Regions from separate parts of the Homo sapiens genome. Here regions 1, 2, 4 and 5 are each linked to region 3. The links come from fine-mapping of genetic effects on gene expression. A gene starts in region 3. Each other region holds a variant in brackets. All regions are shown on one strand. Distances are between the middles of the regions.

Region 1 (6,116 bases), 43 kb after region 3:
TAAAGTGAAATCATTTAAAAATATGAAAACCATTCTTCACTTGCAGGCTACGAACAAGCAGCCTCCTGTTTGACTGGGGTTGCTCAGCGAGCCTTCTGGCTTCTCCGGCACACACACATTCAGGTCTCCATCTATGCAAATGGAGACCTCCTTCTTCTTCTCACCACTGTAATAAGGAGAAAACAGACAGTGGAAGGTTTGTAGAACCTCATGATTGACTATAGAGGCTTTCAGCATTTTTCCTTTACTATTAAATGGGACACTGTACTAAAAAAAATTCTATTGTTTCTATATTTGTTCATTTATTGATTGGATGTTCATTCATCCAACAAATGTTTATTGAACAGGTCCTGTGTCTCCACTGTTCCAGGCACGGGGGATACCTAATGAGGAAAATAAGACATCTCTGCCCTCTGGAGTTTTTAGTTTACATATGAACAAGTATAATATGTAGGCTTTTGGATGACAGGTATCATATAGAGGAGCCAGGGAAGGGGACAGGATGGACAGGGGAAGAGGGTTGTTAGTTTTACATGTGATGGAAAGGGAGAGTGATCAGAAATAAGGAGCAGAATCCTGTGTGTTGCAGATGTCTGGGCAGGCGCGCTCCGGAAAAGGAAGAGGTGGCGCAGAGGCCCTGACCTGGGAATGTGTGACTAGGGCGGAGGCTGGAGACCCATGGCAGATGAAGCCAGGCCTTGAGATGACTGTAAGGACTTGGAAGGGAGAGCCAGTGGGATTTACTGAGGGGTTGAGTATGGGGTGAAAGAGAGAAAGAGTAGTCTAGGACGACCCCAGTGGTTTTCTCCTGAGCATCGGAAGGTTGACTTTCGAAGCAGGAGAGCTTCAGTGGCACAGATTGTGGGGGATGATTGGGGCTGTGTGGGTACAGAGTGAGTTTGAGGTGCCTGTCAGAGAGCTACAAGGAGGTGGCCATTAGGCCATTAAAATCTGGAGTATAAAAATCTGGAGTTCAGAAAAGAAGTGTAGGCTTTTTTGAGAGTTGTTGACATAAAGATGGTGTTTAAAGCTATGAGACTGGGTGAGATACCAGCAAGTAAGTCAGAGAAGAGCAGGGGCCAAAGCCTGAGCCCCAGAGCACTCCAGCATTAGGAGGTGGAGGAGATGAGGGAGCACCAGCAGAAACCTCGAAAGACCTTCCAGGAAGGTAGGGGGAAAGCAGGAGACTGGTGTTCAGAAGCCAACTGCAGAAAGTGTTCCTGAGGAGGAGGCAGAGAGGGGGCTTCGGTGACACATGATGCTGACTGGGTCAAATCCCTTGAGGACCAAGACTTGGCCTTGGCATTCAGTAACATAGTGGTCACTGGAGACCTTGACAAGAGGTGTCAGTGGGGCCAGGCGCAGTGCCTCATGCCTGTAATCCCAGCACTTTGGGAGGCCGAGGCGGGCGGATCACCTAAGGTCGGGAGTTTGAGACCAGCTTGACCAACATGGAGAAACCCTGTCTTTAGTAAAAATACAAAATTAGCCAGGCATGGTGGCACATGCCTGTAATCCCTGCTATTCAGGAGGCTGAGGCAGGAGAATCACTTGAACCTGGGAAGCAGAGGTTGCAGTGAGCCAAGATCACGCCATTGCACTCCAGCCTGGGCAACAAGAGCAAAACTGCACCTCAGAAAAAAAAAAAAAAAAAAAAGTGTCAGTGGAGTGTTGGGTGTGAAAGTGTCAAAGAATGAGCAGAGGAGAATTGGCCACAGGGAGCATGGGCGTTCTTGGAGTTTTGCTGAAAGCGGGAGTGAAGACACAAGGTGGTAGTTGTTAAGGGTATTGCGGTCAAGGGAAAGTTTTTTCATAAAGGGTGAAATAATGGCAAGGTTGAATGCTGATGGGAATGACCTGGTAGAGATGGAAACATCGCTCAAGACCAGGAGAATTGCCGGACGAGAGAGAAGTCCTGATTATCAGCTGTGGTGCATTGAGTATTTACAGTCCTTGCTGACAAATCACCCCGCTATTTAGGGAGCTTAAATAACAACTGGGCACCTAGTTTACACTTCTGCAGCTGGCAGTTCAGGCTGGGCTGCTGGGCTCCTGGTCTTGCCTAGGGTTCCTCAAGTGTCTACAATCAGCTGCTGGGAGGGCTTATCCCTGGGCCTCCAGCAGGCTAGCCCAGGGTCCCTCCCGTAGTGGGGTTGCTCACCTGGTCGGGGAAGGGGGGCAGCCCTGAGGCCCCAGGTCAGAAGCCGCACAGTTACCTCTACTTTATTTCATTGGCTAAAGCAGGCCACAGGCCAGCCCAGATTCAAGGGGAAGGGAGAGAGAGACCTGCCCCCTCCTTCTACCCGCCCTTCTAACAGGAGAGTGCAAAGTCATCTTGCCAAGCTGTGGGTATGAGGAGCAGGGAATCGTTTGGCCATTACTGCAAACAATTTGTCACAGCTGTCTGTGAGCTAAGCATGTTGCTTTCAATCATCACAAGAGTTCTTTGGGGTAGGTAGTATGATTGTGATTTTACAGATGAGAAAACCAGGTCACTGAGCATCCAGTAACTTGCTCAAGATCATGCAGCTAGTAAGTGGCAGAATTGGGACCTAAACTGGTCTCTGAC[G/A]TCAAAGCCCCTTTCTTCCCTATTTTCCCTTCCTGCAAGTGTCTGTTTACAAGGGCAGACTAGAGGGCCCCTCCTCCCTTTGCTTGTTAGGCATGGGAATAATATTTTTGTGGATGATGATTATCTCATAATCAGGGTGGACTGAGGGAGGTGATCATCTTGTTGTGGCTTGCATGTTTACTGTGCGGGGATTGGACAGCTGTATTTATGAGAATCCCTTTGAGGTCACAGTGGTGTGTTATTGACACAGATTCATGTCTCTGCTCTCAGCTGGTCCCTCAGTGCCCTTTGACAGTCTTTGCCCTTGTCCTTGGTCAGCTGACTCTCCTGTCCAGATAGTCACACATGTTCCCCTTCACGCCCCACTTTGTTCCAGGCCTCTGACTTCCTCTGTCTGCCTTTATCCTGGCCCCTCTCTTTCTGGCCCTGACACAGGTACACTCAGCCTCTAGTCCAGGTTCCCTCTGCCCAGGTCCTCTTCCCTCCAGAACTTGTCATCATCAACTGTCTTTTCAACCAACTGGACTTCAAGCTTTCCAAGAGCAGAATCCAAAATGTGGGAAAATTTGAATTAGCATCAGTGAACTTTGTCTCTGACACTGGCTGTATAGTCTTGAGCAAGTCCTGTACCCTCAGGTGCAAGAATCTGGGAAGAGTGGACACTTTGAGCCATCTCCAAGGCCATTCAGGGAGAGTGAGATCTCTTTATGTCCGCCTAGGAAACCCGTGGCCTAGAGCTCAGTTCTGTTCTGTTGCAGTGGCTGCAGTGTGTCCTGGGTGTATACCTGACAGCCCTGCATTTTGCTGCAAGAGCTGCAGCCTTCTCTCTGCCCTCTCCTAATTCAAGCGTCAAAACCTTGTTGGCCCCAGAGCTAGAGCCGCTGCAAGCCACTTCGCTCATTTAGGAAAGCAGGAGGCAGGTCCTGTGCTGAGTCTGCAATCTCAGCAAAGACCTCAGTGAAAATGTTTTCAAGCTCTCTTTGGATAGAGGGAGCAGAGCAGTGAGTAATTAGGTTCAATCACCCATTTCAAGTCTCTGTGACCTTGCTTACATAGGGAGCCCGGAGCTGGGCCCTTCTTGGAGTCCCTGGGTTGGGATCCCAGCCAGCTGAGTGTGAGGAAGGGAGGGAGCGAGAAGGGATGGAGGAGAAGCCTGGGCCAGCAGAGGGCTGCTGTCTCTGCTGCGCTTTCAGCAAGCTCATCTCAGGCATGACATTCAGGATGCAGAGTTGCTCTTTATTTTTTTATGTAGTTTGCTAAGAGAAAATAGCCCCGCTACTTATGTATCAGTGTAATCCAGGGGAAATTACTTAATTTCCGTCAGCCTCAATTTGCTCATCTGTAAAATGAAGGCAACTAATTACACCTGCCTTAGCATATGAGGCGTGAATACGAGAATGCTTGACAATACTTGGCATAGAGTTAGCCCTCGATAAATTTCAGCTGTTAATGTTATTATAGCACCTTCACATGTTGTTGTGTTTATATTGTAAATCGTTGGTTAAAGATATTTTTATTGTCATGATAGCTCCATACTTTCAAGATGCGTCTTTGTAGTATTTCGTATCCATTTAGTCATTCATTCACTGAGTTTGTATTTATCAGACACCTACTTATGGACAAGGAACTGTTGATTATTATCTTTCTGTTCAGGTTATGATGAGCTGTTCATTTCTTAGTGCTTGCCACTATAATATTCAGAGCTACAGTTCGCTGAGCACCTGTTTCAATAGAGTTGCTCACTTGGGAGATAGATTCTAAAGTCCGAGCATAAAGAGAACATGGCACAGAGGAAGAATTAGCCTTGAAAGATCCCTTAAATCATCTGTAAAGTACAGTGTACATCGGAGGTCATCAGACTTTTTCTATAAAGACCATATAGTAAATATTTTAAGCTTTGCAGGCCACCTGTGGTCTCTGTCACATATGCTGCTTTATTTTCCTTTTTAAGGAAAGCCCTTTAAGATGTAAAAACCTTTTGTTAGCTCTGGGCCCTTAAAAAATAGGTCTTTGTCTACATGAGCAGACTGTGGTATGTCTTCTCCAGGATGGTCCGGGGATCCCCGCCTCCTGGTATTCACACTCAGGTGTCATCCCCTCCCTCTCTGGATCAGGGCTGGTCCTATGACCAGTAGAATACAGCAGAAGTCATACAAGATGTTGTAGCTTCCGCCAGCCTGTCTCTCTTGGATCCCCTGCTCTGGGGGGAGACCAGCTGTCCTGTGGTGAGGCGAGGTCACAGGTGAGGGTCTGTGGCTCTGGCCAGCAGCCCACAGGGAAGGGAAGCAGCTCTTCCAGCCCCAGTCAGGCCTCAGGTGACTGCAGCTTCATGAGACATCTTCCTGAGCCAGAACTATCCAGCTTGTGTCAGCCACTCTGCCTTTCAGGTCATTATAAAATCTGCAGCAGGGAACGGGGTGCGGTGAGGAGTTCTAAAGAATGCCTGCTTGCCTGCAGAGTTACATTGATTTTTTTATTAAATGTTTGCTGGTTACACTTGTCAACAAATCTGTTTATGGAGAGGATGAGATGGGAACATGTCATTCATGGGTGTTCTTATTATCATGCATTTCTTGGAGTTTCCATCATTCCAACCAGAGAGAGAACATTTACCATTCAGCAGATGGCTGCATATGGACAGTTAAGTTTCCTGAGGGAGTGATGCACCTCTTCTGGGTGAGCCAGACATTGAGGTACACCACTCAGTCCTGGCAGCAGCCCCCACTAAGGTTAGGATTGGCAGCTAAACGTCTAGCTTGATCCAACTCGCTCCTGATGCCCCTGCTTCCACTGATACCCAGTGTGGCCTCTGCTGTAACACAGCAGTGCGCTTGCAATCTGGGGAGAGCTTTTGCTTCCACACTGAATAGCTTCAGATGGCTTTGCTCTTTTTCGGTTGTGCCAAGAGGCCCTTCTACACTAAATGGCTCATCCATGGGTAGCTACCATTGACCTCTATCGTGTGGCCTGCTTTGGGAAGACAAGCCGGGTCAATTGGTTCTGCCTCAGGAATTTGAAACCGGACACAGGGAAGCATTCTAATCATTGGCGGGGATTTGAGCTAAAGAATCTACAGAATTGGAACCAGGCAGTCCCTGTGTGCTTCCGAATTATGAGAGAGTGGTAACTCAGAAGAAGCACGTTCATGCATTTATCTAATGAACATTGATTAGACATGTGCTGCATGCCAGGCATTGTTTTAGCCACTTGGGTTACAGATATCCTCATGAAACCTATATTGCTAGTAGGTGAAAATACACAATAGACAGTCAACATTATCCGTTAGTGAGTTGCATGTAAAGAAAGTGCGTGAACAATGAGAACACATGGACACAGGAAGGGGAACATCACACACGGGGGCCTGTTGTGGGTGGGGGGAGGGGGAAGGGATAGCATTAGGAGATATACCTAATGTTAAATGACGAGTTAATGGGTGCAGCACACCAACATGGCACATGTATACAAATGTAACTAACCTGCACGTTGTGCACATGTACCCTAAAACTTAAAGTATAAAAAAAAAAAAAAAAGAAAGTGTGAAGGTGAT
Region 2 (6,116 bases), 150 kb after region 3:
CCTTGTGCCAATGCAAGTAACTTCTACTTCCACCTGGGGAGACGGATTTAGATGTAGGGCCGCTTGCTGCAGTTTTGGGGAACATGAACATGCTTAGAAATAGTCCTGCTGCCTCCACAGGCATCCTGGGCAAGGCTGGGGACTGTCTTGCCCCCAGGGGGTCCTACCTCACCTCTGACTTGTGGTTTGGTGAGCAAGGAAGGATGGAAGGTGCTATGTCCCCTGGCCCAAGTTGTGTGCTCAAAACAGTGGCATGCCCTGGTGCCTTGGTGCCGGGGCAGCTCCCAGGCCATCCAGCTCCCAGACACAGTCCAGTTTGTGCCTGTCACCAAGCACAAGGTGAGTCTGGAGGGCACCCCTGGCTTCGCAGCGCAGCCACACTGCTCCTGGGCCGAGGAGCACAGAAGGAGAGGGGACTTGGGGTTGCAGGGCATTTTGTCATCTCATTCCTGCCTGTTTCTTCCTAAACTGATTCTCTGAAGGGCATACTCTGCCTCATACCTTCCTTGGCTGTGTTCATTACAGGGTGATGACGGGCCGGACGTCCGCGGAGGATCTGGGGACATCTTACTGGTCCATGCTACTGAGACTGACAGGAAAGGTAGGGTGTCAGTGAGCTCACTAGATTGGGGCTGGTCCTGCCCCGGGTGCCACTCGGCCTCCCACCGCTATCCTGTCCCCTCCTGGCAGCCACAGCCCTGAGCAGGTCTGATCAGCAGTCCTGGTGCGCCTGAGTCAGAGCAGGGAGAGCCCACCTTGGAAGACAAGTAGATCATGTTCAACTCCAGGCGTGCGTGGCATCTGTCCTCCGCTGGTACAAGGTAGTGACCCCAGGGCCTCCAGGGTCCTTGAGGGGCTCAGCGCATACTAAGCGCACCACAGACAGCGCCTTGAGTGATGGCATGTCACCCAGTAGTACTAAACTTAAGATAACATGCAGGTACCTTTTGATTCCTTTCCTGACTGCTGAGTCACTCTATTGTTGCAGACCATTAGACCGGACTTCACTCACATACTCCACGAGGAAATTCTTGAAGGTTTGTTCTGTCCAGGAACCTTCAATTCTGTAGCAGTGGCCTCAGTTTCACAGCACACAGCTGCCCCACCCTACCACGCATTCAGTGTGCTGATTGAGAGGGCTGGAAAAGCAGGGACCGTCCCCTAATCCCTAAAACGTCTTGTTGGGTGGACTCTGCTAGCAAAGTCATTCCCAGTCATGCTCTGGAAAGGAGGTGCTAGTGACCTGATGGGGCATGGCCACAGCACCCTTCACTGCCTGCCCTCAAGGGGCCAGCACCACCTGGCCGGCCAGTCTCTCCACACGCTGCTTCTCTTTTTACGTTTAAAAAAATGATTTAAAAGATGATGTCAGAGCAATGGTGAAGTAAATTGTGGAGGGAATGAAAACACCCCCACCTTGAAATCCTAGCCCAACCCGTTTCATTTCTGTAAGGGACTCTGTCCCTGTGTTTCCTCAGCACGTTTCCCAAAACATGTGACCCAGAGTGACTCGGGGAATTTCTGAATTATGGAAGTAGTACTAAAAAATATTTACATTGCAGAAAATTAGAGAAAAAGAAGAGATGGCTCCCACAAACTCACCGCAGCCACTGCTCCGCCCTCCCCTTCACTGTTCCCTCACCCTTTGTTTGTTCTGACCAGGGCAGGGCCCAGACCTGGCGATGCTGCATCCTAGCCCCAGCTGTGCCATGACAGGCTCAGAGGGCCCCTGGGCAGTCCCCGGGCTTCTCGGCCTGAGCCGACTCCACTTGTTGAAGGGGTGAACGGTGCCTGTTGTTGTGTGGATTACGTGAGGGAGTGTGAAACCTGCCCCGCATGTCAGCGGTGCTGGGGGCGTGATCAGCAGCATCCTGAGCGCCGAGTGCAGCCCTTGCTTGGCTTCTCTGCAGTGAATCCCCCTCCCTGCCTGACATAGGGGGCTCCATACTCAGCCAGGCATGGGAGCGACTTTCATTTCCTTTTTGTCCACAGCGAGGGGCTGAAATGGGAGCTGGCTTCAGACCTCGGCTCCAAAGGGTGAACTCCACTGTCCTGTCGGGTACAGCCAGCTGTGGCCAAGGCTGGAGGGGTCCCTGAGACAGGACAGCCAAGAGGCTTCTGGCTTTTGCTGGCTGGACCTGCTGAGAGGACGCTCCGTGCCGGTGGGAGCTTTGCCTGATTTTACTAGCAGAAGGGTTGGAGGCTCCCCAGAACCAAAGTTTTACGTAGGAAGTATTACTGAGGCAGAAGCCATGGCTCCACTGGGAGGGTGAAGCACCCTGTGGCAGGTAACAAAGCAAGCTCCTTGGGCAGGTGCATCCTGCAAGCCAGAGACTGCACCAGCATCACGAGCAGCTGGGAGCCCCGTGGCTCAGGCCCGTGGAGCCCAGCCTGCCAAGCAGGGCTTGGCAGGGAGAGGCCGTGTGGGGGTGCTTTGTGGTTGCACGGCTCTGCTCTCAGGTGTCAGGACCTGCATGGGAGAAGGTCAGGTCAGCCTTGGCCTCAGGCCTCAGCTTAGATCCTGTCTATCCCTTGACAACTGTGTGCCAAGCCTGTCACTTAGCCCCGGAGCTTCCGATTCCTTAGGAGGAAAATGAGGGACAATTTCGGGGCCTTTTAGGGCTGTCTCAAAGACCAGGTGAGCCAGGGCGCACAGAGTGCTCAGGACCGCATCGAGAGTCCTGTGATCTCTAGAGGGGTGGCACAGCACTGCCCGTCCCAGAAGCCAGGCGCTGTCCCATCTGCCATAATCCAGGGCACAGCAGATGGGGGAGGGCTCTGGAATTGGGCAGACATGGGCGCCGACCCCGCCACATTGCTTGCGGGTGGTGTGGCCTCGTGCCTGGGCTCCTCCTCTCTCGGTAGGGTAACAGGACTCTGTCCTTGTGGGATTGCTCTGGGCATTGAAGGATGTGGCATATGTTCAAGGC[A/G]TGGCCCAGTGCTCACCAGCGAGTCCCACGAAGTTGTCATGGCTACTGGCAATGATGCACCCGCAAAGGCCAGTTGACTTGGGCCCCTTCTTCCAGAAGCAGGTATGGGTCTATGCTGGTGCCATCTCTGCTTCCTTCCCCAAACTCTTTGAACAAAAATCCAAGCTTGACAGTGAACTGGGTGGGTGTGGGGGCCGAGGAATGAGCCTGAGCACAGTGCGGATGGGCCCTGCTGTGATTCCCAGCCCGGAGCCTCCTTCACCTGCCAGCCCCACCCCACGCAGCCCCCAGTGCAAGAGCAGGCGTGGGTTTTCCTCTCGTTTGATGCAAGAGGGGATGGGGCAAGGGTGGGGGCAGGAGCCAAGCCAGCATGACTCAGCTGGAGATGTGGGTTCCTCGAGATTCCTCTACCCAGCAGCTCGGGAATGAGGGAGAAGGTGGGAGCAGGTGGTCTATGTCCAGAGCACAAGATTTAAGCAGTGCGTGTTTGCACCCAGCCTCACAGTGAGAAGCACAGCTGCGGAGCCTCCTTGGGCCTCACACCTCAGCAGGCACGGGGGGTGGCTGCAGGGAGTGAGTCTGGCCACCCGTTGGCTCAGGCAGTGTCCTACATTTTAAAATTCCACTTCATTCTGTAATATCAGAGACAGCACAGTTGAGAAGGTGTCACCACAGCAAATAAATAGGGCTGTTGTAATTCTGGAAAGTCTGGGAGTCCCTGACTGGTACCAGCCCCCTCTAAGAGGAGGCAGGCATGGAGAGGTGAGGGGTAAGCTGGAGCTGCCAGCCCACACCTGCCCAGTGGCTGGCACCATGCCTCTCCTTGGTACCCGGCCCAAGCCGTGCCTCTTCAGCCTATCCCTTAGGACCCAAAACGTGGAATTTCCCCGGATTTTTCTGATTGGACCCTACCATCTAAAAGTACTGACCAGGCACGGTGGCTCACGCCTGTAATCCCAGCACTTTGGGAGGCCAAGCTGAGTGAATCACTTGAGGCCAAGAGTTTGAGACTAGCCTGGCCAACATGGTGAAACCTTGTCTGTATTAAAATCAGCCAGGCGTAGTGGCGCGTGCCTGTGGTCCCAGCTACTCGGGAGGCTTGAGGCAGGAGAATCACTTGAACCCAGGAGGCAGAGGTGGCAGTGAACCAAGATCGCACCACTGCACTCCAGCCTGAGTGATAGAGTGAGACCCTGTCTCGAAAATAATAATCATAATAAAAATTTAAAAATAAAAGTAAAGCCTAGGGTTTCATTTCAGGATCCTGCTGACGGGTTTGAACAGACGATTTTCTTTGTTCCCATGATGGCTGAGACCCTCTGAAGCATAAAGCCTTAGGACAGGCAGAGCCTCTCAGAGTCTAATCCAGGGCTGGCTCCTACCTGGAACAGGCATGCCACCGGGTTTTGATGCCTAGGGCAGGCGTCACTCGTCAGCCTAAGTGCCCTTTTCCGCTGGGACCAGAGTTGGCCTCAGCTCCCACAGCACGGTTCTCCAGGCAGCACCATCATCGGTAGAAAGTGCCCATGAGATAAAACCCTTTCCTGTTTCCCCTCTCTGATCTGCCGTTTCCTTTGAGAGATGGACAGAGAGGACGTGTGACTTCTCTGGGACATGCAGGCGGAGACACCAGAGGGGGTTCCCAAGCCCTCGGCTCCCTCGCCCATCCCACTCCCCGTGCCATCTCCCCTGCCTCTCTCAGAGCAAGGACTCAAATCCACCCTGGCTACCACCCCCCAGCACTCTGCACCCAGACAAGCAGTTTGCATTGTTTTTTCCCTCTAGATTTGGTGTTGTACTGCGAGGCATTCCTGACCACCTACAGGACCTTCATCTCCCCAGAGGAGCTCATCAAGAAGCTGCAGTACAGATATCCTTTCCTTCCTGACCCAGGGCCCCTGCACCATGGGCATTTTGGAGAGAGAGGGACCCTCTTGCCCTTCAGTCCTCGTGGGGGAAGCCGAGCAGCATATTGGGTGGCAGTGTGATTGAAGTAGGGACACAGGAGCCCCATGGACCGAGGTTCCCACCTCTACCCTCCCGCATTCCAGCTTTGAGCTCAGGCAAGTTCCTCATCTCTAAAAGGGCCGAGTGAAATGATGTGAAGAGGCTGGAACATAGTCTGGGAATGTGTGTCTGGTGGCAGTTGTGGTCATTGGATGATTCTAAAAACGAATTAGACATGCCCCAGACTGGGAGGGGTAAGTGTGCCGGTCCTGCAGACGCCTCTGAGAGACCCTCATGGTCGGCTCCGGCAGCTTCTCAGAGCTGAGCCCCAGGGCGTTGGGCACGAAGGATACCAAGACCCAAATAGACAGCTCAGGGGTCAGCACAGTCACCTTCCCTGGAGCGGACCCTGCGACTGCCACATCCACAACTGGAATGGGCTCCTGTCCCCAGATCTACCCCATGGGCCCACCCTCAGTAAATGTCACCCTCTGCAGTAGTGGCTGAGGAGGACCCCAGGGGTTTGGAAGGACCCACTTGTGTGACCCATTGCCTCTTCAAGTCCAAACCTGCCCATCCTAAGAGGCTGACCTGCAGCTGCTGCTCTAGGAGGGTAGCCTGGGTCAGCTGCTCCTCAGCCACCTCTTTGCACATAGCCCACGGCTGCCATCTGCTGGGCAGCCACCACCACCTGGGGTAGGAAGTCCTGAGTCCACCCGCGCCCCCGCTCCTTCCTGTGTGCCCTGAGCCTTCACTGCTCCACTCAGGGCCTCCTGCAGACCTCCTGGCCTCCTATTCTCCCCTCGTGTTGACCTTTAGAATCCCTGATCTATCAAGACAGACGTGGACATCCTCCATTGGCGGAGCCTCGGGTCCCCGGCAAGTTCTGTTACTCAGAGCACCTGCTCACAGGCCTGACTCAGTGAATGGCTGTCACTCACACGTGTCAAGGACTTGCTGGTCAGGCGAGATGTGCTTTACACCTGTGCTTTCACCTAGCCCTAGCTCTATGACCATTTTTTAATATGTGTGTGTGGGTGTGTATAAAATTACCATATTATACATGGGGCCACTGCTCTATAACTCCCTATTGTGTAATTGAGGAAACCGAGGCCCAGAGACATGAAGGACCTGACCCATGTGGCTGCTTGGTGGGAGAGCAGCCACACGCTGCTTGCCCCCTGCTGCCTGCGCCCAGGCTCTCAGCCTCTGCCTGGCTCAGCCATCATGGAAATATTG
Region 3 (6,116 bases):
CTAATTATGATCTTCAAAAAATGCCCTTCTTGCTGTAAGCAATAGCAGAGCTAGGTTTCTGAGAGTGAAATCAAGTTTCCTAATCAGTACAGGAGGATGGCCCTGTTGGGGCGTGTCAGGGAAGCATTCTCCATAGAAGTGACAGTGAAACTAAGAAGCAAAAGATGACTGGGACCAGCCAAGTGGAGAGGAGGGGAGGGAACATTCTAGACAGCAGGAGCAGCTCATGAGAAGGTTCCAAGTCAGCCAGAACTGGGCTTTGGGAATCCGTTTGCTTCATTACCTTGTGTGTGTTCTACTATAGTTATAAACATCTTTGATGAATAGCCTTTATTAAGTAAGTTCTGTGACCCTGATTTACCATAATGTCCATTTGCAAAGTACTTTGTTGTTTGCAAATCTTTTGTCATTGGATATGTCATAATTTATTAAATATATTTGTGTTCTCACAAACCCCTGACTGCACCTAGTATCCATGCAGTCTAGTTTTCTACTTTTCAACCAGGATTTTGGATTTAAAATATCGGCTCTTCTCAGCTCAGAAGCCTAGAAGGGTTGGGGGCAGCATTGAGTGTGTTTTGGGGTTGGGCCTGGGACCAGGGGCCAGTTTTGCCTGGTAAGGCATCTGCCAAGAGGGCTGAACAGGGCCACCCTGGATCAGAGCATCCATTCATCAGGTGGAAGAGGGAAATGAATTTGTCAATCTTTGGATTTGCCTTTGACCTCTAGAGGGCTGCAACTGATGAAATGATGATGGGAAATTTGGCTGCCATCTATGACCATCTCCTTTTTTTTTTTTTTAAAGAGGGAGTCTCGCTCTGTCACCCAGGCTGGAGTGCAGTGGCGCGATCTTGGCTCCCTGCAACCTCTGCCTCCCAGGTTCAAGTGATTCTCGTGCCTCAGCCTCCTGAGTAGCTGGGACTACCAGCGCGCACCACCACGCCCGGCTATTTTTTGTATTTTTAGTAGAGATGGGGTTTCACCATGTTGGCCAGGCTGGTCTCGAACTCCTGAACTCAGGTGATCTACCCACCTCGGCCTCCCAAAGTGCTGGGATTACAGGTGTGAGCCACCACACCCGGCCTGACTAGCTCTTAGTTGTGGAATCGGTGACCCTTTAGACTGTCCAGGGAGATGGGAATAAGAATCTCTCACAACATTAGCAGTTTTTCCTCCTCCCTGCACCTCCCCCAAATCCTGTCCCCATCACTAGGTTATTTAATTTACTTATTTTGGGGGAAACAGGAGGGAAAACTAGCCCAGGTGGTGCGTGCTACTTCTTTGTATTCCATCTTAGACTAACAACAGGAAGCAGGCAGCAGAATTGCCCCACATTGGAACATCACTTGCGTTACTAATTTGTTGTTATTTACTACTTGTATTATAGGATTTAACTTTGACTTCCCAGCTAAGTTGTGAACTCTTTGGAGGGAAGCACCAATTGTGCCCACTTTTGTAGGGCCCACAGAACCCGAAATAGTGCTTAGACTTAGCAGATCCTTTGATTCTTAAATGACTTTTTTTTTCCTTTTTTTTTTTTTTTTTTTTAGCCAGGGTCTTCCTCTGTCACTCAGGCTGGAGTGCAGTGGTGCAATCATGACTCCCTGAAACCTCTGCCTCCAGGGCTCAAGTGATTCTCCCTCATCAGCCTCTCAAGTAACTGGGACTACAGGCAGGTGCCGCCGTGCCTGGCTAATTTTTGTATTTTTAGTAGAGACGGAGTTTCACACATTGCCCAGGCTGGTCTCGAACCCCTGGGCTCAAGTCATCCACCCACCTCAGCCTCCCAAAGTGCTGTGATTGCAGCCGTGAGCCACTGTGCCCAACCACGACTTTTTTTTTTTTTTTGAGACGGAGTCTCGCTCTGGAGCCACCAGGCTGGAGTACAGTGGCATGATCTCGGTTCACTGCAACCTCCATGTCCTGGGTTCAAGAGATTCTCCTGCCTCAGCCTCCCAAGTAGCTGGGACTACAGGCGTGTGCCACCATGCCCACCTAATTTTTGTATTTTTAGTAGAGATGGGGTTTCACCATGTTGGCCAGGATGGTCTCAATCTCTTGACCTCGTGATCCACCTGCCTCGGCCTCCCAAAGTGCTGGGATTACAGGCGTGAGCCACCGTGCCCAGCCACGACTTTTAATGAACTCATTTCCACACTAGAAAAGTTCCACAGCTGAGCCCCAGGGTGCCCTTCTGGATGTCAAATAAGCAGGGCAGGCAGGGTGTGCTGTGTCCCTGAGGGAGTTGGGCCCAGGCCAGCATGGAGGCTCTAGGCCTCAGGGGACATTTAGGCCTGAGTAGGGCCAACCCCAGCCCGGGACAGGTGGCTCTCGCTGGCAGGGTGACTGAGTCCCACATGCAGGGCTGGGGTGGAGAATGAATCCTCCGCCTTGGCATAGACCTTGGGCCAGCAGAGGGCTTTCATGCCAGAGTGGACTCATTCCCCGGCTGGAGCCTCTGGGCTGGCAGGAGGTGCTATGAGGCCACTCCCAGGCCCTGGTGTGGGGTCTCCAATTAAGAAGGGGGTGCGGGCAGGGTGCAGTGGTTCACACCTGTAATCCCAGCACTTTGGGAGGCCAAGGTGGGTGGATCATGAGGTCAGAAGATCGAGACCAGCCTGGCCAACATGGCGAAACCCCGTTTCTACTAAAAATACAAAAATTAGCTGGGCATGGTGGCATGTGCCTGTAATCCCAGCTACTCAGGAGGCTGAGGCAGGAGAATTGCTTGAACCCGGCAGGCAGAGGTTGCAGTGAGTCGAGATCGCGCCACTGCTCTCCAGCCTGGCGACAAAGTGAGACTCGGTCTCAAAAACAAAAAACAAAACAAAAAAGGGGGTGCTGCATCTCTGGTTTGGGGGAGGTCAGGACAGGCTCCCAGCCAGCAGAGCTTGTTGAGTCCTGGTGAGAGTGAGTTCTAGGCCCTGGTGTGGAGCCTCTGGCCCACAGGGGATGCTGGGTCCGGGATGATGCTAGGGTGGGGTGGGCGTCAGTTCCACGTCCTGGGGTGGAAAATCTGACCCAGGAGGGTTCTCTGTGTCTCTGGTGAGGGGGCAGGCCAGGCTCTTGGGCAACCGAGGACCCTGGGTTGGAGCTGTCAGTCCCAGGTCTGGAGCTGGTGACTCTGGTCCCACAGCAGAGGAATGCGGAGTCCCAGGCGGGGTCGGCCCCACACCCCAGGCCCCAGGCCCCGGCGTGGGGACTCCGGCTCGGCAGGGGGCGCTGCGTCTCGCGCGTCGCGCGGGAGGCTCGGGCGGCTCCGGGCCCACAGGGGGCGCTGTGGCGGCGCGGCGGGCGCCCGGCAGGTGGCGCTGTGGCCGTGGCCGCGGCCGAGGCCCGGCGGGCGGGCGGGCGGCGTCGCTGCGCTGCGGCCGGCTCGCGGGCCGGGGGAGCGGCGGCGGGCGCGCGGGAGGCGGAGCGGCGGCGGCGGGCGCGGCGGGAGCGGCTGGGCCCGGGCGGGCTGGAGCGCGGTCGCCGAGCGCAGGGCCGCGGCCGCGCGGAGCCCGCCATGCCGGCGCGGGTCTGAGGCGTGGCGAGCCAGGGCCGAGGCGAGCGGCGGGCGCGCCGCCCCTGTCGCCCCGCGGCGGCCCGGCCCGGGCCCGATGAGCGGCGGCCTCGGCCTCCGGCGCAGCCCGGAAATGTCCGGCAAGATCGAGAAAGCAGGTGAGGCGCGGGCGTGGGGCGGCTCCCTCCGGCCGGGCCCGGCCCTGGGGCTCCGCCGCTCCCCGGGCCGAGCGCGGGTCGCCCGGGATGTGCGGCCCTCCGTGCGCCGGGGCGGGGTGAAGCCACCGAGGCCTCGCCGGGGCGCCTGGCAGCTTCTCCTCCAGGCCCATTGCCTGCCGGGCGCGGGGGGAAGCGGCCGCTGCGGGGGCGCCAGGGGCCGGGCCGGGCGGGGCCCCTGCAACCCGGGGCCGGGCGCGCTAGCCGCTCCGCGGTCCCCGGGAACTTCCGAAAATGGCTCGAGCCCCAAGCAGGGGAAGAACAGCCCGGGCCGCGTGCTGCTGCGGCTGCAGCGATCGGTGCCCGGCCTGGGCTCGGCGCTAGGAGGGTGAACCCAGCTGAGCTGTAAAATGTGTCATTTCTAACGAGCTTCGAGTTTAACGAGAAGCGTCCACTTCGGTTGCTTCAAAGGAAGCAGGCTGGATGAGTGGGGGTATTTTGAGGAGGTAGTCAAGTTTCCCCTCCCCACCCCGATCAAGCTCAGCTCTGCAAGGAGGGCAGGTGGGGGACCGGTGGGTTGGAGTAGATGGTAAATCTTGATGCAGACCTCGTCTCTTTGTGTGTTCCTAGAAATCTGGGGGAGTTACCTTCCGAGTCCCTGGGTTTGCCTGTCCTGGAAATAGAGTCTCCAAAGATTCAATGACTGTCGAGCCTGTGGGGCCCCAGGCTTTATTAGCCTGCAGCACCTTGCAGGGCAAATGCGAATTCTTGGGTCTAAGGTGAAGTGGGCGGGTGCTCCTGGGCTCCTGTACTGGGAGCATGCCCTGTGGTCATAACCCCGGTAGCAGGTTAGCTTGGCGGCTGAATGAGGGAAAGCAGATTTTTAGGGAGCTGCAAAGGAGGTCTGTGGCTTTGATTGTGGAAGTTGCTTATGTTTCCTGGGTTGAATCTGGGATACTTCTGTGGGGTGCACCCCTGCAGCGGACCCACAAGGCAATATGACTTTTGCAGGCTGTGGTTGAAGCACAGAAGGACATTTTTGTAGGCTTTATTGAGGGTTTACTATATATCTAACTCTTAGCACCTAAAATGCATTGCTTCTTAAATTTTTGAAGCTAGTCTGTGGGAAAGAATATGGTCCCAGTTTTACAGGCTCAGAGAGGTTCAGTGAGTTCCGGCTGTCCAGACAGCAAGAGGGCGGCAGGCCCCTAGTATATTCATTCCTGGCCCTCTGACCAGAAGCCAGGGTGCTTTTCTCAGGGGCAGGGCGCTTGGGTTCAGGTGCCATTTCTTGAGTATTTTTCTCACTGAATTTGAGCCCCCACAGCCTTGCCGAGTGACCATGAGTCGCCATCCTGTACACCTGCTGCTCCAGAAATAACTTGGGTTCATCTGTGCAGCATTTCTCAGGAACTTCTTGTATAGTGTCTTGTCAGAACGGTACTGTTGGGAAACTTGGATAATTTATTTTAAAAAGAACATTCACTGAGTTCTTTTATAAGAACTTTATAATATATAAGATTATATTATATCTTTTTATATCTAATATAAGATTATATTATGTTTTATATCTTTATAATATAAGAATATTCTATGTTCATTGTCAAAACTTGGAAATCACAGAAAAGTAAAATGAACCGGATTGGAAATCATCTGTCAGCCAGGTACAGTGGCTCACGCCTGTAATCCCTGCATTTTGGAAGGCCAAGGCAGGAGGATCACTTGAGCCCAGGAGTTTGAAACAAGCCTGGGCAAAATGGCGAGACCTCATTGCTACTTTAAAAAAAATTTTTTTTTTTTTTTTTGAGACGGAGTCTTGCTCTGTTGCCCAGGCTGGAGTGCAGTGGTGCGATCTCGGCTCACTGCAAGCTCCGCCTCCTCCTGGGTTCACGCCATTCTCCTGCCTCAGCCTCCCGAGTAGCTGGGACTGCAGGCGCCTGCCACCACGCCTGGCAAATTTTTTTGTATTTTTAGTAGAGACAGGGTTTCACCGTGTTAGCCAATATGGTCTCGATCTCCTGACCTCGTGATCCGCCCACCTCGGCCTCCCAAAGTGTTGGGATTACATGCGTGAGCCACCGCGCTGGGCCTCTTTTTTTAAAAAAAGGAAAAAGTTGCCTGTCATCCCATGAGCTGCCCAAACCGCTGGGAATGAAATGACTCTTCATTTGAGTTCTCTGCTATTTGGGAGAAAGACCTGAGGCCAGTTCATTTCAGCATAGTTTGTCCTTGGGCCTTTTCTGGGCACCGCCTTCTGCTAGGGGGTTGTAGATGAAAGTGCCTGCTCCCAGAGAAGCTTGTCTAACCTAGCACAGTTTCTAAGCTACCCAGGCTGCCAGACCGAGCGACCGTGCTGCCATGGACACAGGTGAGAGAGGGGTGTCATGAGTGCGGGAATGAGGAAGACACTGGAGGGGACAGTGTTTGTGCTAGGCTCTGAAGAGAGGGCTGAGATA
Region 4 (6,116 bases), 23 kb after region 3:
AATCTCAAATTGTTATTCTTTGGAATGGATAAAAGGGATATTAGTATTTTTGTCAATTTAAGTTTTATAGAGAAAGTTGGAAAAATAATTATATAGGGACACTTGTCTTGGTTAACTTGGACAGAGATTTTTTTTTCTGTTGCTGTGGAAAAGATACAGGCATAGGATTTTTCTAAGAAGTTTCATTTTTTATGCAAGTGATATACTGTGGGAGGAGGTTAAAGGAAACAGCCAGAAAGACAGGTAAGAAGCTTGATGTTTGTGACAAATTGATAACTTGCAGCCTGTGATGTTGGCAGGTGTTGCTGACAGGGTCATCTGGGGCCAGGTGGTCGCTGTCCTGAGGACCTGCCGGGTACCCAGAATGCTGCCTGCCTGTTCGGTGGCTCTCAAACGTCAGCACCTGGAGGTTTCTGGGCTCTGGCGCCTGGTTTCTGATTCAGTAGGTCTGTGGTTGGGCTGAGAATGAGCATCTCTAGCGAGTTCCCTGGGTGACACTGCTGGTAGAGGTGGGGGGTATCTTTGGAACCACCACTCAAAGTCTGGAGAGGAATTGGAAGGGTCATAGGGACTTACCTGTAAGATAAAAGGTTGCCCTTATAATAATAATGATGATGATGATGACGTAACAAAGAATTTCTGTGCAGTAATGCCAGGAGCTGTGCTATGTGTATTTAATCCTCTCAAAAGCACTGGAAGGAGGTGACAGTGGCCTCATTTTACAGATGAGAAAACTGAGGCCCAAGGCTGGGCACGGTGGCTCACGCCTGTAATCCCAGCACTTTGGGAGGCCAAGGTGGGCGGATCACCTGAGGTCAGGAGTTTGAGACCAGCCTGGCCAACATGATGAAACCCTGTCTCTACTAAAAATACAAAAATTAGCTGGGTGTGGTGGCCCATGCCTGTAGTCCCAGCTAATCGGGAGGCTCAGGCAGGAGAATCGCTTGAACCCAGAAGGGGGAGGTTGCAGTGAGCTGAGATCGTGCCACTGTACTTCAGCCTGGGTGACAGAGTGAGACTCTTGTCTCAAAAAAAAAAAAAAAAGAAAGAAAGAAAAGAAGAAAATATAGCTGTGTGGGCAATAGTCAGATGAACTATTCCCCTAACTTTGCCCCAATTCGGTGTATGACTATGTACAAATCTTAACTCTTTCAGATCTCAAAGAAAAGCTCTGTGTCTTAGTTTCCTCCTCTGTAGAATGAGAACAGTAACAGTATCCTTCTCTTATCGTGAGGATCTAATGCAACCACGAGAGTAAAATACACAGAAAGGAGCCTGGTACTGCATGGGCTAAGTGCCTAATGAACATCAGCTTACTACTATCTCTCCGGGTGACAGAGTGAGACTGTCTCAAAAAAAAAAAAAAAAAAAAAAAAAGCCCTGAAGGGTTTATGTGACTTGTCCAGCTGGGTTGAAGAGCTAGGTTGAAGCCGCTGCCCAGTATTGAAACAAACCCTTATAAAATAGAGAAGTAGCTTAATAATAGCCCCAAAAAGACATCACAGACTGAAGACTTTTCTAGTAGTATAAGTACACGTGAACAAGAAAATGGTGACACTTCTGCTTCCAGTTCATGCTTCTTGTCAGCAGTATTGCGAGGGAAAAACAACAGTGATCTAATGAGCCCTGACAAGAGATGGCCAGAAGCTGAGCAGTTGGGAAGAAAACTCTTTGGTGAATCTCACTCTGAATGTATATTGTGCCTTGGGATATTAGCTGATTAATTTGGATGACATATTAGTCATGATAAGCAAGACATTTACAAACTAAGCATCCAGAACGTGAAAACTAAAATTTTGCCAAGCACCGTGGCATGTGCCTGTAGTTCCAGCTACTCTGGTGGCTGAGGTGGGAGGATCACTTGAACCCAGGAGTTCAAGTCCAGCCTAGGCAACATGGTGAGACCCTGTCTCACACACACACACAAAAAGCCACAACCTCTAAAATTTAAATTATATCTGAAGTCACGCAGTACTCCCATGAGTAATTTTACAGCATCAAGTGTACGTGCTCTGTAAAGGGTTTCATCTCAGCCTTCTGTTTTGGGCTCTTCTGTCTCCTGAATTGCCATTTGGGAACAGGCAGCCTAGTCCCGTGGCACTAAGCCAGCTAGCTAAACACTGGTCCTTCTCAAATGCATGTTTCCAGCCCCTCTTTAGGACATTATGCACCTGAACCAGAACTCTTGGTTCTCCCCTTCACTCTCTGCCTGGTAACTCACCTTGGGTTCCCCTATCACAGTAAATAATGCCATTTTTGATCCGATTGTTCAGGCTTAGAAATCTTGGTTTGGATGAGAAAACAATGAGGGTGTCCTTGCCTCCTCTCTCCCAGCGCACATCCAGTCCCTCGGTAAACCCCTGCGATTTACTCCAATAAATCCTGACTGGTCCTTCTTAGTACCTCCTCTGCTGACCCCTTACTCCAGGCCACCGCCGTTTCTCCCTGGACTGCCCCATGCCTTCCTAACCGGCTTCTTGGTTTCTTCTCCCAACTCACAGCCATTCATTCTGCATTTCACAGCCAGAGTGTGAACTGGATCACATGGATCCTCTTTATGATTGCCTGGGGCTTCCCCACACATGTGAAGCGATCCGAGGTCCTCGACGTGGCCTGTGTGCGCCCTGGACTCTGGCCCTTAACTCACTCCCTGACACCCCTCTCCCCGTCACTGTGTCCCAGCCACACTGGCTTTTGTGCTCTTCTTCCAGGTGTTCCTTTCCCTCAGAGCCTT[T/G]GCACTTGCCGTTCTCTTACTGGAACATTCATTCCCCAGATATTGTAGGGCACCTGCTGAGAAGCCATGGACAAGAGCCACGGTTTAAAGGCTGCTGGTGCCACCGTTTGCTGATCATGTGATCTTGGGAAAAGTTGCTCACCCATCTCCTTTTAAAAATCAGTTTCTCATTGATAAGATGGATCCTGCGGTAGGGTTTTGGTGAGTTCATGCTGGGGAGTACTCGATTGGAAGAACTGGGCAAACATGAGTTCCTCTTCCTGTGTCCTTTGCTCCCTATCCCTAGCTGCCTCACATCTTTGTTCAGATGCCACCCAGAGAGGTCAGCCCTAACCACTGGGCCCAGAATAACAGATAGGGTGCGCATCACTTTCTGTCCCTCATCCCCCGCTCTTTTTCCCCCTTTAAATGTAGCCTTTTTTTTTTTTTTTTGAGACAGTCTCACTCTGTTGCACAGGCTGGAGTGCAGTGGTGCAGTCTTGGCTCACTGCAACCTCTTGGGTTCAAGCGATTCTCCTGCCTCAGCCTCCCCGGTAGCTGGGATTACAGGCATGCACCACCATGCCTCGCTAATATCTTGTGTTTTTAATAGAGACAGGGACCATGTTGCCAAGACTGATCTTGAACTCCTGAGCTCAGGCAATCTGCCTGCCTTGGCCTCCCAGAGTGCTAGGATTACAGGTGTGAGCCACCGCGCCTGGCCTATTTGCTTCTTTTTTATGATATTTTCCCTCATTGGGAGGTAAGCTCCCTGTCGGCTGCTATTTCACCAGAGCCCAGAATGGTGCCTGGCACATAGCTGACGCTCACTAATTTTTGTTCAGTGGATAGTGAGTACCCATTGTGTATGGACTCCACACCTCTTAAGGGAGACAGGTGCATTTTTACAAGCTTGAGGAGCACAGCCAGAGTGCAGGCTGTGACCGTGTTCATCCTCATGCAGCTCAGTGCAGAGGGCCATCAGCAGTGAGTGGCTCTGTCAAGTTTATCTGGAGGCGGGGAGTTGTAAAGGGCAGAGGCATCACAGCCTGGAGGCTGAGGTCAGCGGGCTGGCCAGGAGAGGGGCTGGAGTCTTCCCCAGTGCGGGCATTACCCCTTCCAATACTGCCATGGTCCAAGTGAAGCAGAGGCTGTGGGACCCGAGGCTGTGGGACCCTCAACACTGATCTTTGAGAGTCCACTGGATGTTGGCTGTGAGGTTTCCTTTGACTCGCTGGAGAGGAGGGACAGGAGCTACAGTGCAGGCAGGCAGGTGCACGGCTATGCACAGTGTCCAGTCGCCGTGTGAGGAAGTGGGAGATGAAGGTGGGAAAGGTAATTTGGGGCCAGACTCCAAAAGGCCTTGAATGCCAATCCACGTACTTAGGACTTCTACCTTTAGTATTACAGGAAGCATCGAGGGGTTTTTATTATTTTATTTTTTTGAGACAGGGTCTGCCTCTGTCACCCGGGCTGGAGTGCAATGGCGCGATCTTGGCTCACTGCAACCTCTGCCTCGCAGGCTCAAGCCATTCTCTCACCTCAGCCCCCCGAGTAGCTGTGACTACAGACACACATAACACAATGCTTAGCTAATTATGTTTTTCCTTTTTTTGTAGAGACAGGGTTTTGCCATGTTGCCCAGGCAGGTCTCAAACGCCTGGGCTCAAGTAATCAACCTACCTCTGCCTCCCAAAGTGCTGGGATTACAGGCATGAGCCATAGTGCCTGGCCACATCAGGGGTTTAAGAAGCATTCTCCTTACATATTTAGACTTTCCACCAAGTCTTCCAAATTTCTCCCTTTCCCATACTGAGGGCTACGTTTAGTTCCTGGCCAAGTCCTGACTTTGTAAAGAACAACAAGTAAACAGCTTCTTCAGAAGGCTGGATGCTGAGCCCTGATTGCCCTTCAGTGAACCAGCCTCATCCATGAAGCTTCTTGAAAAGCCAGAAACTGTATCATTGGGGGGGTCCTTGAAATCTGAAGCAAGGGACAGGTTCTGAGCCCCTGTGTTTTGCAGATTAGGTTGCACAAGAAAGATGGGCTGGTGACTTTGCAGTTCATTTCCGTAGATTGTCCTTCTAGGCCTGCCTGGATAGAAGCAGCCTCGTGTGGGATCCAGCAGCAGTGGCCAGTGGGATGGGAGCCAGCATATGTAGTTGTTGACACATCCCCTGCAGACGTGGGTCGGCGGGCTAGCTGTGGGAGAGCACTGCAATGGGAGTCAGTGACTTGGGGCCTCTAGCCTCCTGTGAAAGGTCTTTTTTCTCTGGACCTCAGTTTCTCCATTTTATTGTAATGAGTTGGGCTAGATCAGTAGTTCTTAACCTCTTTTTTTTTTTTTTTTTTTTGAGAGGGAGTCTCGCTCTGTCACCAGGCTGGAGTGCAGTGGTGCAATCTCCACTCACTGCAACCTCCACCTCCCGGGTTCAAGTGATTCTTCTGCCTCAGCCTCCCGAGTAGCTTGGGAGTACAGGTGCTCACCACCATGCTCAGGTAATTTTTGTATTTTCAGTAGAGATGGGGTTTCACCATCTTGGCCAGGATGGTCTCTATCTCCTGACCTTGTGATCTGCCCACCTTGGCCTCCCAAAGTGCTGGGATCCTAAGTACAGACGTGAGCCACCGTGCCCGGCCATTCTTAACCTCTTGAAACTCCTTAAGACTTTGGTGAAAGCCATAGACCTCTCTTCCCAGAAGAATGAACACGTGGTTTGCCGGCACCTTAGGAACCCCCAAAGCCCATGAGACAAAGCCCTGGATCTATAAGGCCCTGTCCCATCTGACCCCCGGCCTTCCCCTGGGCACATACCTCCAGCTACACAGGTCTTTCATACACACTGCCCCTTTGCCTGGTCCAGCTCTGCTCATCCTTCAAGTCTCACCCTTCCCTGACTTCCAGCTTAGATTAGGTCGCCCTGCTAGACATGCGTCCCCCACCCTGAATTTAGCACTGATCACCGGGATAACTAAGTGATTCTTCGTGCATGTTATCCGACCCTCCCCAAGCTCCGTGTTGGTATTTGTTGAGTAAATCTCTGAGGCCCCTCCAGCTATGACATTCTGAGACTGATCTATAAGTTTGCAGATGTGTCATAAGAGAGTCCCTGAGCTTGTATTTCCTATGACATTCGACACGTGGTGGCCTTTGCCTTCGATGATTTCCTCCAGGCCTGGACAGGAAAGTTACTTCAAAGCAGTCTCGGCCAGACTCGGTGGCTCATGCCTATAATTCCAGCACTTTGGGAGGCTGAGGCTCGAGGATCACCTGAGGCCATGAGTTTGAGACCAGCCTGGCAACCAAGCAAGATGCTATCTCTACAAAAAATAATTTTACTAATTAACCAGGCATGGTGGCAAGTGCGTATAGTCCCAGCTAGTCAGGAGGCTGAGACAGGAG
Region 5 (6,116 bases), 30 kb after region 3:
AGATTTGGGGGCTGGATCCAGCCCTCCAACTAAATGCCTAGCGTTGATCCCTGCCCCTCTCTGAGGAATCTGTGAAATGGGGAAGGGAGTCGCTGGAGCAGATGATCTTGTGGATCTCCTTGGGTTTTACAGAGATTTGAGGCTTGGAGTAGTCATACCTGAAGGAGTGACCTTGATAACACATGGCCAGGTCGGGTCTGATTGAAGGCAGTTCGTACAGCCACAGCGTTCTCGGCGTATTTGTGCAAGGCTTGGAAACTCATCACAGTGGCTGTGCAGTCAGCCTTCTGCTTCTGGTAACAGTTCACTTTTGATTCTTCCCATTTGTGAAGAATCAGAAAAATTTTCTGTTGTCTCCCTGAAATGTGGACTGGAGATGGGTCGCTTGCCCATCTTGGATTGCAAGCATATTGGTCTTTGGGGATGGCTCTATGTTTTTTTGTTTGTTTGCTTAGTCTGGGACACTGCAGAGGGGATGACTGTAAAAGACGCTTTCTGAGCTGGGGATTAGAGAGGAATTCTTAAGATTAGGTTATTCTGTTGCTCTCCCCCTCCCCCTACCCCTGAACAGTTCACATTGGAGTTATTTTGGGGGAGCCATGATTGAGAAGGGTTGGACCACAGGGTCCTCATTTCAAAGCTGTTCTCTCAAGGAAAAATGTCCAGTTCATTCTAAAGGTTCATCAGTATATTAGTTGTTTGGAACCTAGGATGCGTTTTTTCATGGAAACACAGTTACAAATGTGTTGGCCCCCAGCTGAGAAACGAGAGAGGGCACACCTGAGCCCAGGTTCTGTAACTGTGACCCATTGTTGTCTGTGTGCACAGGCGCCAGGAGGAGCTGCCCCAGACACGGCTCCTGACTTCAGGGGCTTCGCACTCCTGATAGGGAAGAAATTCCAGGGCCCAGAGTGGCCTGAGCTAAGGAGTGGGGAAGTGGAGGAAACAGCGCCCCAGCCGCCCATACCCTCTGACTCTTGCTAGGAGAGGAGAGGTTGTTTATGGATTAGAAACTCTGGTTAATGCATTCCAGGGGGTGGGGACAATCAGTGTGTGTATGTTGGGGATAATTCTCATTGGTTTATTCTGTCACCTATCCACTCATTTATTCAACAGAGAGTTATTAAGCACCTACTGTGTGCCAGGTATTCTGCTGTGCAACTGTTAGTTTTCACTGGACCCCTCTCGCGTGGTGGGGGTTCCCTGTGCTTTATTCCAGTTTGTGGCTGCAGTTTAATCTGGGGAGGAGCTTGCGGGCTCTGTGAGGGAAACAGGGAGCCTCTGCACCCATGCTCTTTCCTGCCACCTCATTGGAGACGGTGCGACAGACACATGCCATTTGCTTTGCCAAGTTTGGACTCTCAGGCCGTGATTTTGCAAAAATGATCTCTGTATTGGTAGATCAATTATGAGGCCTTAAGATCTTGTAGAGATTTGGATTTTGGTTTTTGTCTGTTTTGCATAAATTGGAAAGATTATTTCCCCTTCCTTCAGAAAGGAAGGGCCTGGTTTAACACAGTGGCCCACTGCGCCCAGAAACTTAACAGAGCATTAAGTGCCTCTTAAACTTGGTCTCTCTGGTTCTGTGGGTCTTTTTTGGAATGTTGTCCCAAATATTACTCCGGTTCTATACTTGCTCCCATTTTGTACCATCCAACTCTGTAAAATAAATTTACTTTGGTGCTTTTGACTAAATTGACCGAAGCCAGATATCTGCCACCTAAGCTAATGTATTTTCCGTCTACAATTATAAAAGTGATGAAGGGCTGGGCGTGGTGGCTCACGCCTGTAATCCCAGCACTTTGGGAGGCCGAGGCGGGCGGATCACTTGAGGTGAGGAGTTTGAGACCAGCCTGGCCAACGTGGCAGATCCCCCATCTCGACTAAAAATACACAAATTAGCTGGGTGTGGTGGCGCACACCTGTAATCCAGCTATTCAGGAGGCTGAGGCAAGAGAATCACTTGAGCTTAGGAAGCAGAGGTTGCAGTGAGCTGAGATTGCACCACTGCACTCCTGCCTGGGTGACAGAGTGAGACTCTGTCTCAAAAAAAAAAAAAAGGTGATAATAGGCACAGTGCAGTGGCTCACACCTGTAATCCCAGGACTTTGGGAGGCTGAGGCAGGAGGTTCACTTGAGACCAGGAGTTTGAGACCAGCCTGAGCAACATAGGGAGACCCTGTCTCTACAAAAAAATTTAAAAATTAGCCAGGCGAGGTGGCATGCACCTGTAGTCCTAGCTTCTTTGGAGGCTGAGGGAGGAGGATTGCTTGGGCCAGGGAGGTTGAGGTTGCAGTGAGCCATGATTGCACCACTGCACGCCAGCCTGGGTGACACAGCAAGACCCTGACTCCAAAAAAAAAAAAAAAGTTAAATATTCACCAGGGACCTCCTGAGTGTCAGGCAGCATGCTACGTACTTCACAAATGTTCTCTTTTGTTTGATTCTTATTACAGCTGAGGAGGTGAGACTGGAATTATGCCCAGTTAACAGATAAGGAAACTGAGGCTGCTGTGCTCAACTGGCAAAGCCAAGGGGAAGAGCTAGTATTTGCACCCAGGCTGGAGTGCAGTGGTGTGATCTCGGCTTACTGCAGCCTCCACCTCCCAGGTTCAAGTGATTCTCCTGCCTCAGCCTCCCAAGTAGCTGGGATTACAGCTTCGTCCCACCACGCCCGGCTAATTTTTGTATTGTTAGTAGCGACAGGGTTTCACCATGTTGGCCAGTCTGGTTTTGAACTCCTGGCCTGAAGTGATCCACACACCTCAGCCTCCCAGAGTGCTGGGATTACAGGCGTGAGCCACCTCGCCCGGCTCAGAGCCTGCATTCTTACCCATATTATGCTGTGGGGATTCTTTAGGGGCTTTTATAACCTCAAACTCTGGGACTGAAATAAATGAAATCTTTTCATCCACCTCGACATTGTCTTCCTTTTTACCAAGAATATGTGATTGATTTCATTCCCTTCTTTTCTTCTAGAAAACCCTTTGTTCAGAATTTAGGTAGCGTAGCACTTTCTCCAGCAAAATTGTTCCCAAAGTGCAGTGGGAGTTTGGAGCTTGGGGTTATAAATTCTTAGCTGTATTTGTCCCCAAGGTGTTTTCTTCTTTGGAGACTGAGGTGTAGCAGTGTTTTGATGTTTTGTTTCGTTTTGTGTTTCCCTTGGAAACACAGCATTAGTGAAATCAGCTTGTTTTCTCTGACAGTACTTGTTACGTGGTGCACACTGGTCTGAGCGTGGGACTCTGAAATAGAAGGCGTGGCATAAGGGTCTGTATGAAAATGTTTCTCCTGGCATGCCCCAGAATGGTTCATTTATGACTTTCAGCATTTTGATCACCTGATTCCCCATTTCTCCTGCGGAGAAAAGTGGTATTAAAAGTATTTGGACATAAAATTCATCTTGCAAGCCGCTGTTGTGCTGATGAGTAATAAAGTGTCAAAAGGATGCTGAGGAAAGAGCTTCTTAATATAGACCATGCCTGAGAGGCACCGGTAGGGCGATAACAAGCCCTTTCTTCTGATTTCCTCCCTGGGGCCAAAGGGATTTTGAAAGGCAGAAGGCAAAGACTTGAGAATGAGATTCCTCAGGCTTCCCTTGTGAGGCTGCCTGGGTTCTGCCGCTGG[G/A]TGGTTTGGGATGTCCAAGAGATATCCCCTTTCAGCCAGTGACTCGGTCCTCAGTTGCTGCTCCGGAAAGACGCTGGGGCTGGGAAGGGCCCTGTGTCCTCTGGCTTTAAAATGGGCAATGCTATTGAAAAACAGAAGCCCTTGAAACGAAGTCATCTGTACCCCTGGAAACAAGGTAAGAAAGCCCTGGGCTTCCTTTCCAGGAAGAAGCAAGGAGGCAGTTTTCTCTGAGAGACTGGCCCAGCAGCAGAGCTGAAGTGCCTGGGGAATCACCTTCCAGAGCAGAAAGCACAGGTAGTCCAACATGATTTCAAGAAAATTCACAATTCTCCTGAGGAATAAGATGATTCCTCTCTCAATATGATGGCTTGGTTTGGCTGAGAGTTTAGTTCAGCTCGAGATGTTTCATTTGGTGCAGTATGTGTCTGTTGAAAATTTTTATTTTTTTTGAAATGGAGTCTCGTTCTGTCGCCCAGGCTGGAATGCAGTGGCATGATCTCAGCTCGCTGCAACCTCCGCCTCCCAGGTTCAAGCAATTCTCTGCCTCAGCCTCCTGAGTTGCTAGGATTACAGGCACCCGCCACCACGCCCAGCTGATTTTTGTATTTTTAGTACAGATGGAGTTTCACCATCTTGGCCAGGCTGGTCTTGAACTCCTGACCTCATGACCCACCTGTCTCAGCTTCCCAAAGTGCTGGGATTATAGGTGTGAGCCACCGCGCCTGGCTGAACATTTTTACTTTTTTAGAAATGTTCCAAGTCAGCCAGGCACAGGGGCTCACGCCTGTAATCCCAGCACTTTGGGAGGCCAAGGTAGGCGGATCACTTGAGGTCAAGAGTTCGAGTCCAGCCTGGCCAACCTGGCGAAACCCCGTCTCTACTAATAATACAAAAATTAGCCAGGCCTGGTGGTGGGCACCTGTATTTCCAGCTACAGGCATAAGGCTGAGACAGGAGAATCGCTTAAACCCAGAATGTGGAGGTTACAGTAGCCGAGATTGCGCCACTGCACTCCAGCCTGGGTGACAGAGTGAAACTGTCTCAAAAAAAAAAGAAAGAAAGAAAAAGAAATATCCCAGGTCAAAGCTTTGATATCTAGGAGTTTGAGGCTTTTGTGATATTTTTTGATTTAGATAATGTTATTAACAGCTTTTAAATATATAGCACTTCCAAAAGTTCCAAAGTACTTTCAAGGTACTTTCTGTAAAATCTTTCATTTATCCATCCTGGACACCCAGGAAGTGGGACAACAGCCTCTCTTAACACCTACTCTGTCTCTCTAGGGCTTGGGGTCATGTCAGCTTGAGGAGGAGGAAGTTGGCAGGGCCACAGAGCAGTGCAGTGGTACATTTGGAGCTCAAGGACCTTTAATAGTGTCTCAGTGCAGGACAGTCTGTTGACGCACTCAGCGGCCTTTTATCACAGTTATTGACCCAGGAGACCGGCCGGCTGGCAGGCATGCCAGAGATGACATATGCGAGACTTCACCAGGTCTTTGCCTCCTCTTGCCAGAAGAAGTTGCGGTAGCATTTGATCAGTAGCAAGACAGTTTTTTCACAACTGCATATATGGGTGTGTTTATGAAAAGAAAACAAATAACTGGAAGAAAATGCATGGAAATATTAAGAGCAGTTGCTGTTTGTCAAATCATAGATCATTTTCTCTTAAAAAGAAAGTAGGTGGGATGCTAATTTACTGTCAGGTTCCAGCCCTTCTGACTTTCTGTGAGTCATTCTTTTGTCTAACATGTTACTTTGGAAAGGGTACTCCTTAGCAATCCTTGATTGGATCCAAGTTTGAACAAAACGGCTATTAAAGACATTGGGGGACAGTTCGGGAAATTTGAATATGAACTCCATGGTGGATTATAATGAGGAACTGTTGCTCATGTGATTATGTGTGAAACGGTGCTGAGTCATGTAGGAGTGTGTGCTTTTTTGAATAGTCATGCTGAAGTATTTAAGGGTGAAGAGTTATGCTATCTATAATTTACTCTCTAAAATCATAATCACTCTGTGATTTTCCCTGTATACACGTTAATAAATTTGTATGCCTTTTCTCCAATTAAAAACAATACTGTAATCCCAGCACTTTGGAAGGCCGAGGCAGGCAGATCACATGAGGCCAGGAGTTCAAGACCAGCCTGGCCAACATGATAAAACCCCATCTCTACTAAAAATACAAAAATTAGCCAGGCGTGCTGGTGCACATCTGTAATCCCAGCTACTCGGGAGGCTGAGGCACAAGAACTGCTTGAGCCCAGGAGGCGGAGGTTGTAGTGAGCTGAGGTCATGCCACTGCACTCCAGCCTGGGCAACAGAGAGAGCCTCTGTTTCAAAAAAGAAAAAATCAAAATAAAAAAACAGGTTCAGCAAAATATACTGTATAAATAAATGGGGACCTAAGATAAGCAAAATGGGATAAGTTTAACAAGTGTTAGAGTCCAGGTCATCGATATATGAGGTTTGTTATACTTTCTTTCATGTATT

Direction of the effects. Positions count from the first base shown, and alleles are read on the strand shown. Sizes are in standard deviations (SD) of each study's normalised expression. Not every link is listed here.
With allele A in place of G in region 5, the expression in neutrophils of the gene that starts at base 3,357 in region 3 is lower (large effect, 1.3 SD a copy in BLUEPRINT).

What was found.
Region 1: its variant is fine-mapped to the expression of RAPGEF1 in whole blood (TOPMed, PIP above 0.99).
Region 2: its variant is fine-mapped to the expression of RAPGEF1 in whole blood (TOPMed, PIP above 0.99).
Region 4: its variant is fine-mapped to the expression of RAPGEF1 in pancreas (GTEx, PIP above 0.99).
Region 5: its variant is fine-mapped to the expression of RAPGEF1 in neutrophils (BLUEPRINT, PIP 0.95).

What each region holds. Positions count from the first base shown.
Region 1 is chr9:131,694,781-131,700,896 of GRCh38, reverse strand. All of the region lies in intron 1 of RAPGEF1 (Rap guanine nucleotide exchange factor 1), which reads left to right. Among named protein-coding and RNA genes, the nearest start is that of RAPGEF1, 42 kb to the left of the region's middle. The variant G/A (reference allele first, on the strand shown) is at 2,570.
Region 2 is chr9:131,590,783-131,596,898 of GRCh38, reverse strand. It overlaps RAPGEF1 (Rap guanine nucleotide exchange factor 1), which reads left to right. Exons shown (of 27, transcript NM_001377935.1): 17 at 526-601; 18 at 4,716-4,800. Among named protein-coding and RNA genes, the nearest start is that of PRRT1B, 48 kb to the right of the region's middle. The variant A/G (reference allele first, on the strand shown) is at 2,931.
Region 3 is chr9:131,737,317-131,743,432 of GRCh38, reverse strand. RAPGEF1 (Rap guanine nucleotide exchange factor 1) reads left to right here and starts at 3,357. Exons shown (of 27, transcript NM_001377935.1): 1 at 3,357-3,663. The coding sequence starts at 3,603. RefSeq lists silencers at 3,134-3,393, 3,544-3,593, 3,644-3,973.
Region 4 is chr9:131,714,815-131,720,930 of GRCh38, reverse strand. All of the region lies in intron 1 of RAPGEF1 (Rap guanine nucleotide exchange factor 1), which reads left to right. Among named protein-coding and RNA genes, the nearest start is that of RAPGEF1, 22 kb to the left of the region's middle. The variant T/G (reference allele first, on the strand shown) is at 2,735.
Region 5 is chr9:131,707,306-131,713,421 of GRCh38, reverse strand. All of the region lies in intron 1 of RAPGEF1 (Rap guanine nucleotide exchange factor 1), which reads left to right. Among named protein-coding and RNA genes, the nearest start is that of RAPGEF1, 30 kb to the left of the region's middle. RefSeq lists enhancers at 353-852, 853-1,354, 3,212-3,311, 3,221-4,002, 5,444-5,503. The variant G/A (reference allele first, on the strand shown) is at 3,628.